2 linked regions of the Homo sapiens genome follow. The protein of the gene in region 1 purifies or fractionates together with the protein of each later gene. This does not show direct contact. Each region holds a gene or a part of one and is shown on either strand. Other genes may lie near its edges.

Evidence for each region. Proteins that work in one complex are often made in the same cells at the same time.
Region 2: the proteins of KCNJ5 (region 1) and NUP35 purify together in Homo sapiens (affinity purification with mass spectrometry; 2 studies listed by BioGRID and IntAct, with this or other methods). This does not show direct contact.

Annotation. Positions count from the first base shown.
Region 1 is NC_000011.10:128,897,550-128,901,603, reverse strand, and holds part of KCNJ5 (G protein-activated inward rectifier potassium channel 4), read right to left. Parts: intron 2,040-4,054; exon of another isoform or gene 1-2,039. UniProt on the Homo sapiens protein: Inward rectifier potassium channels are characterized by a greater tendency to allow potassium to flow into the cell rather than out of it.
Region 2 is NC_000002.12:183,155,152-183,159,074, forward strand, and holds part of NUP35 (nucleoporin NUP35), read left to right. Parts: intron 1-2,292; coding exon 2,293-2,362; intron 2,363-3,131; coding exon 3,132-3,260; intron 3,261-3,923. UniProt on the Homo sapiens protein: Functions as a component of the nuclear pore complex (NPC).

The DNA.
Region 1 (4,054 bases):
AGTCACTCAGTGTCCCTCGTTTTGCTCGGAGACATCCTGACCTGGGCAAGCTCTTTAGGGAGCATCTTTCCTGTCTGTGCCGCATTCTCCATGGCCTTTGCACTCTTTTTGCTTTTGTTTTAAACACGTCATCAATTCATTGCCTGCAGCAGCTTGTACTGCCTTTTGGTTTTTCTTTGCAGAACAGCTCTGGAAGTGAAGTGTGTGTGTGTGTGTTTGCGTGCACTACTCTGGACTGGGTGCCTTACACGTGTTAACACACTTGATCAGCTCAGCAACACTGTGGAATAAGTGTAATGTGTCCATTATTCAGATCAGGAGACTGAGATTCAGAGCAGGGAGGGAACTTGCCAGAGACCACATGGCTTGCAAGCAGCAGAACCTGGGTTTGAACTGACAGCGGCCTGACTTCAGAACCCACGCTTTCCCACCCTCCTACTTCACACCCATTTGAGTCCAGCCATCTTGGTTCTGAATCATAACCCTGACTCTCCTGGCCACATCCTATGCTCCACATTACATGTTACTCTACAGGTTACCACCCTGGGTCTCTTTCCTATATAAGAAATAGAAATATTTGTGGAAATCCTAATGTTCATGACATCTCTGCCATTTTATCAGGAAAAATTCTATCCTACCAAATACTGGTATAATGTACTTGGCCCCCCTGGATTGGATTGGTATAGGTTAAGAGCAGATATAAGGTCTGAAATAATCCCGGTATTCCTAGTATGTGGAATTATTATCATGGAATCATAATGGCAGTTTGCACCTCTGTTGGGCTCTTTCAACTCCTGTGTTGGCTCAGGAGAATCCTATCACATTAGTCCCCTTTTGTAGTTGGATAGTTGGGCTTGCCAGAAGGCACACAAATTTGGGTTAACTCATTTCCAGGATTCTGGCATTGTAGACACAGAAACACCGACTGTGAAGTTTTATGTAATACAAACACTGGGAGATTTAGCAATAGGCCTGCCAGGCGGCCCTGGCTTCTGGCTGCACAACAAAGGGGGGTGGCTGGTGCTGAATGGGGCAACAGAAGGTGAGTTTGGGGCCTGCAGAGCCTCGGGTAGCCCAGAGGAGCGAGAGAGTATTGGCTGTTCATTTTAACTCCATCCTTGGAGGATTCCCCACCACAAGCCTAAGGAAGTAATAAAACCTCATGCATTATTTTTTGATATCTGGAGAGAAACACGTACCCTAGAAATGCTGTGGACTAATTCCATGGTTACTTTGTCATTAAAGAAACCAAAATACTGAGAGGTCACCATAAACACAAAAAGGCAGAGAGAGAAGGATTAAATGGTGTTTCATGTAAGGATCTTTAAAGGGAGACAGAATTCTAGTCTGAAAGGAGCGCAGGCAGATCTGGCATTTTGCTTGGGGAGTTCAATTCTTTGGAGAAAATACAGAGACAAAAAGACCATTTTGATGGTATTTAAAATATCCCTCTGCCCAGTGTATCTAAGTGAGTCTAAATATATTCAGCAATTTTTTAAAGGGCAGATATTAGGCCCGATTCAAGGTATGGAATATAGATTCGAAAGGGTTAGTGATAGGTGAGTGCCTTTCAGGTAGCTTTGCATCACAGACCAAGCCCATTATTGAGGACTGTACGTATGGAGCAGGCCCGTGAGCTTGTGACTGAGTTTCCCAACCTGCCAGGCTCCCATTTGCTTAGGATGAATATTTTTCTGCCCTCCCTGGTGAGCCACTGTGGGCCACTCGCCACTCCTTACACCCCTTCCCTTTAATACCTCGCTTGGCTTACTTGCAAAATCCACATGCATCCTCCTGGATCTCACAGAAGATGTATGAAAAGTCATGGCCATGAAAAGGGCACGGAAATCAAATTAATTAATTTTGCTTTTTCCCCACGTTTGTTTCTGTCTGTCTGGTACTTTTCCTTTTTAAGCCTGCCATCTCTTTGAAAGTGAGCCGCACAGTGATAATCCATTTTCTTCATTGTAACCCCACAGTGTATGTATTCCACATTAAATAATAAAAGGGATTAATAATTAAATCAAAATGAAAAACCACTTGTTTCCTGTCTATAACCCAAGGGACAGATTTCCTGGGCTGGTGCCAATTTATCAGTGATGATTAGGGAAGATGAGGTAGAAGTGCACAGAGACAACAGCCTGAAAGCAAGATAATGTGAGTTTGAATATATTCATATACAAGTGAAAAGGATGAGATGGTGAGGGATGGTAAATGTGAGAAAGAGCCACAGAAACTGGACATAACAGGTAAAATCCCAGTAATTATCGTCACCTACTGGGGCTGTACCATATACCCAATTTTATTCCAAATGCTTTACATGTATAAACTCATTTAATCATTTCAGAAAAGGTACCAGGTAGATACTGTTCTCCCCATTTTATAGATGAGAAAACTGAGGTGCAGGAGGGTGAGTCAACTGCCCCAAATCTAGTAAGTGGTTGATCTGGAGTTGAACCCAGGCTGAGTGGCCCTTGACTCACACTCAGTGTCTGAGCAACTCCACAAAAATGGAATGCTTAAATGATTCAAGAAAGAGGAGATAGACAAATATCATGGGGTAAGAAATGAAACAGAAAAATCCATTGAGAATAAGAGAAAAACAAAGTGAAAGAAATAGGAAAGGCCAGGCACGGCGGCTCACGCCTGTAATCCCAGAACTGTGGGAGGCCAAGGCAGGCGGATTACCTGGGGTCAGGAGTTCGAGAACAGCGTAGCGAACATGGTGAAACTCCATCTCTACTAAAAATACAAAAAAAATGAGCTGGGCGTGGTGGTGAGTTCCTGTAGTCCCAGCTATTCGGGAGGCTAAGGTATGAGAATCGCAGACAGCAGAGGTTGGCAGTGAGCCGAGATTGCGCCACTGAACTCCAGCCTGGGTGACAGAGTGAGACTCTGTCTAAAAAAAAGAAAGAAAGAAAGAAATAGAAAAATCAGAGTAAGGAGTTGAGAATGAAAGAAGGATTTAAAAAAGCAAAGGACAAAAAGGAAAGACAAAGTGAAGTGTAAGTGGATGTGGGCATTAGAACGAAAGCTGAGGAGGAGGAAACAAAGAACAGATGAGAGACCCAGCTGAAGGGAACTGCATCTTGGCGCTTGCCATGGGGCACTGCTCATGCGCTAACTTATTTGACTTTCCCATGGCATTTCAAGGTAGGTGTTATTAGACACATTTTACAGAAAGAGAACTGAAGGTCTGAAAGACTAATGTCCAAGGCGACACAATTAGTTCATGGCAGAGCAAAAAGAACTGCTGACAATTACAAAATGCCAAAGAAAGAAACTGAAGAATAGCAAATAAATGGAGAAACATACTGTATTCATGGATTGGAAGACTCAATATAGTAAAAACGTTGATTCTCTCTGAATTCATATACAGATTCAATGCAATTTCTATCAAAATCTCACAAGATTTTTTATAGATATAGATAAAATTATTCTAAAACTTATGTGAAAAGGGAAAGCAACTAGAATAGATAAAACAATTTTGGAAAAGAATAAAGTGGAAGGAATCAGTCTACACAAGTTCAAGACTCATTACATAACTGCAGTTATGAGGAAACTCCAGACTATGTGGTATTGGCAGAAGGATAGACACATAGATTGATGGAACAGAACAGAGAACCCAAAAATAGACCTTTGCAAATATGCCCAACTTATTTTTGACAAAAGTGCAAAAGGAATTCAGTGGAGGAAAGACAGCCTTTACAACAAATGGTGCCGGAGCAATTGCACATTTTTAGGCAAAAAAAAGAACCTTGACCTAAGTCTCAGACTTTATACCAAAGTTAATTCAAAATGGATCATGAACTTAAATATAAAACAATAAAACTTTCTAGAGAAAAACATGGGAGACACTCTTCAAGATCTAGGGCAGGCAAAGAGTTCTTAGACTTGACAAGAAAAGCACAATCCATAAGAAGACAAACTGATCAATTAAACTTCCATCAAATTAAAAACACTTGCTCTGAAAAAGACTCTGTTAAGATGAAAAGGCAAAATTACAAAGTAGGAGAAAATATTTGTAAATTACATATCTGACTGACAAAGGACT
Region 2 (3,923 bases), on another chromosome or scaffold:
ATCACATGCTGATACTGGAATGTATCTATTATATATTTTTTGGGATTAAAAAACATAAAAATAACACATGAGCTCCTTGAAGGAAGAAAGGTGCATAGTAAATGTTTAGTGGATTTTATGTATTCAATTTATTTAAAATTAAAAATTCAAAAGGTATGTAAGAATGTACAATGAAGTTTTCCCTTTTGCTTTTGTCCCAAGCTAGTTTTCCTCCTCTTTAAGGCAGTGATTGCCATCTGTTTTTTGTGTATGTTTCCAGAGAGATTTTATGTGTTATTGATTTCTATTTGGGTAAAAAGCGGGTCATTGCATTCCGTTGTTCTCTAGAAAGTCCATACTCAGTCCTATATCCATAGCAATTGGGCTGGTGTGTTTTTTTTCTTCTTCTTCTTTTACATTTACATTTTTATAGTCTCTCATAAAATGGCTTTTTTTTTTTTTTGAGACAATCTCTCTGTTATCTAGGCTGGAGTGCAGTGGCATGATCATAGCTCACTGCAGCCTCCAATTCCTGGCCTCAAGCAATCCTTCTACCTCAGCCTCATGAGTAGTTGGGATAACAGGCATGAGCCAGCTTGGCTGCATGTTTTTGAAAATAGGTACCCACTCTTAAATCTGTTTTTCAGGCTCAGTAGTAGTGGTTTAACTTTTAAGATTTCCAGTAATTAGATAAATTACTTGAAGCACTCCTAGTATTTTTTCGTATTTCAGACATTAACTCTCCCAGCTGTTTATTTTTTTACTTTCGTGTTTTAATAACCCTCTATGACTTTAATTTCAAGAACTGAAGCATTCTCCTTTAAGGGATAAAGTATTTTATTTTGATCATTTATGGGGAAGTACCTCTAAAGGATGCATTATATATGTTCTTTCTTTGGTAGTTTAACTTTTTCCTACTGACTTAGGGTTATGAAATATTCATTGTTTTGGGTGATTCTGCTATAGAGTACTAGAATGTAAGTTTCTACTCAAAGTGGTCCAAGAGTTTTAGAATTATGTTTTATTTCTTAAGTACTTCCCTCACTTGCAGCCATTCTTTCTTCTTTTCATTTTTGTTTGATCTCTGCCCTGTAGGCACCCAACCTATTTGTTGTTTTTCTTTGTGGTTAGAAATTTCATGTCCAGATTTTATACAAATGAATTTTCAGTTCTGATTGCAGTGAATATTTTACTCATATAGATTTTATTTAATTAATTAATTTATTTTGAGATGAGGTCTTACTCTGTCACCCGGCTGGAGTGCAGTGGCACGATCTTGGCGCATTGCAACCTTTCCTTCCCAGGTTCAAGCGATACTTCTGCCTCAGCCGCCTGAGTAGCTGGGATTACAGGTGCCCGCCACCATGCCCAGCTGATTTTTTGTATTTTTAGTAGAGGCGGGGTTTCACCAGGTTGGCCAGGCTGGTCTCGAACTCCTGACCTCAAGTGATCCACCCACCTCGGCCTCCCAAAGTGCTGGTTGGTATTACAGGTGTGAGCCATCGTGCCCAGCCTCACATAGATTTTTAATGTGTTTGGTTTCTGATTTATTTTTGAGACTCGAATTTTTTTTTTTCTTTAGGGTTCTAATTCAGTCTTCAGATAACTGAAGTTAGATAGCCATTTCTATGCGATTGGTAGTGGTTATTGTTTTCAAATTGAAAACAGCTTTATTGTTAAGACTATAAAAGAATAATATGTCATTGTAAAATATCCAAACCATACAGAACTTTATAAAGAAGAAAGTAAAAATTACTTAGAATTTTCTCATGCAGAGATATGGCTAATCAAATTTTGGTAACTGTCCTTTTAAGTGATTCTATACCATAAATATTTTGATGCTGAATTTTCTCTTTGTTATGATACTAAATTTCAGAATTTTTAAGTGATGCTCAATGTATAATGATTCGTTTATAATTTAAAATTCTTTATCTTTTCATAACCGTAGTATACCTAAATATATTACATATTAACATACACATATTGAAATAAATTATATATAGAACTGCAACTTTATAGTTTTTTTTCTAAGACCTGGATAATGGCAACGAGAGTAGCATTTTTAGAGATTTCAGAGGTAGAATCTGAGGATGGAGAAGAATGGCAGGATAAGACTAACTTTAAGGTATTTGCTTTTGAGTGACTAGTCACTGACAGAATTAGCCCATATCGGGGAAAACAGGATGATCAGCACTCTCCTGTTAACGTTCTAGACAGTTGGGGGCCATTTATCTTGAAACATTATCTTGTAGTAATTTGCATTCACATTGATAGTAGAAGCTGACGTTTTCTTTGGACAACTCTTTTTTTCAGGTTTCCTCAAGCATCTGCTTCCTACATATTACTACAATTTGCACAGTATGGGAATATCTTAAAACATGTGGTAAGGCTTAATTTTTTTCAGTTCAGAGTTTTGACTAAAGAGGGATAAGTTGTGAATTGAGAGAAACTGCTTCTGAATTTTGTGGGTTTTTTTTAAACTTAAATTTTTTTTTGAGTTTTGATATAATACATCCTTTGAAGTCTGGAAGGCTGGAAGTTGCCTAATTTTTGATAAAAAGAGATATAGTGAGAAGATATGGAGAATTGAGAGTTTGAAAATCCACCTCCTCTCACCTCCTTTCTTAAACAGTTTACAGTCTTAAAAAAGATAGATTATGCCAAGTATTATATTACTGTTTTCCAATTTGAGCTGCTTTTATTGGGGATAAAAGAAGTAGGAGGCAGTTCCTGAGCTTTTAGAGTTTTTAGAGCTTTATAGCTCTAAAATTTAAAAAATTATCTTACCTTGTGCTACAAGTTATAAGTAACAAATCCTTTTTTGTTGCTAGAGATTGACTTAACTCCTATACAAAATCAAATTGAGTAGTTTTAAATAACTTTATGGCAAGTGTTGCTTTGATCTCTTTACAATAAACATATTTTGAGAAGTATCTTACTTTCAGAGAATATGTACATGTTGATTGTAGAGAATTGAGAGATTGTTGAAGCTGTTCTAAATACGATTTTTGTTGAACTTTACAGCTTTTTACAAGGCATCAAATACGGAATGGAAGTAAATTTATCTTACCATGTTCCTATTTTCTAGTAGAATTCATTAGATGTAGATTTTATATATTTTCTATTTTAAGAGACAGTTTTATTCTTTGCAGATGTCTAATACAGGAAATTGGATGCATATTCGTTATCAATCTAAACTGCAGGCTCGGAAAGCCTTAAGCAAAGATGGGAGGATTTTTGGAGAATCCATCATGATTGGTGTAAAACCATGTATTGACAAAGTAAGTTATTGGTGATGTAGGCAAAGTAGCTTAATCTATATGAAGAGCACAAGACCAAGGATTGAAATTGGTCGTTGTGTCACTTGGTTTCACTGTGTCTGTTTTTCTTAGTTTGTAAAATGTGATGATGTTTATAGTACTCTTTGTGGTAAGCCGAAGGTATTTAATCATAGAGTTTAGAATTTAGAGGTAATCTGTCCTCACCTCTTCATTTTTCAGATAAAGAAACTGAGAGGGCTTAAGTAACTTGTCCAGAGTTGTTAAAGGTGAGGCCTAGATTTTAGGTCTCTTGACTACTAATCCATTCTCTTTCTTGTGCAAAGCGATACCAGATTCTTTAAAGTACTTAAATGGAATGGTACTATTTCAGAATGAATTAGTTCATATTAACATTAACTGATAGTTAACTTTTAAATGTCAAAGGTTTTCGTTTCAAAATATTTCTGTTTAAAACTATTTTAAAATTATTCTATATATACTCATTAAATAGTACAGAGTACAATTTAAACTGTTCTTTGTGGCTTGTTAAATCATTGTGAACATTCTTTAAGTATATGTGAACTTGTACTACATTCCAGGCATTGTGCTTGGTGCTAGTATACACACATTAATGAACAAAGCAAGATGTGGTTCCTATTCTTAAAATCTGTTATATCAGTGTAG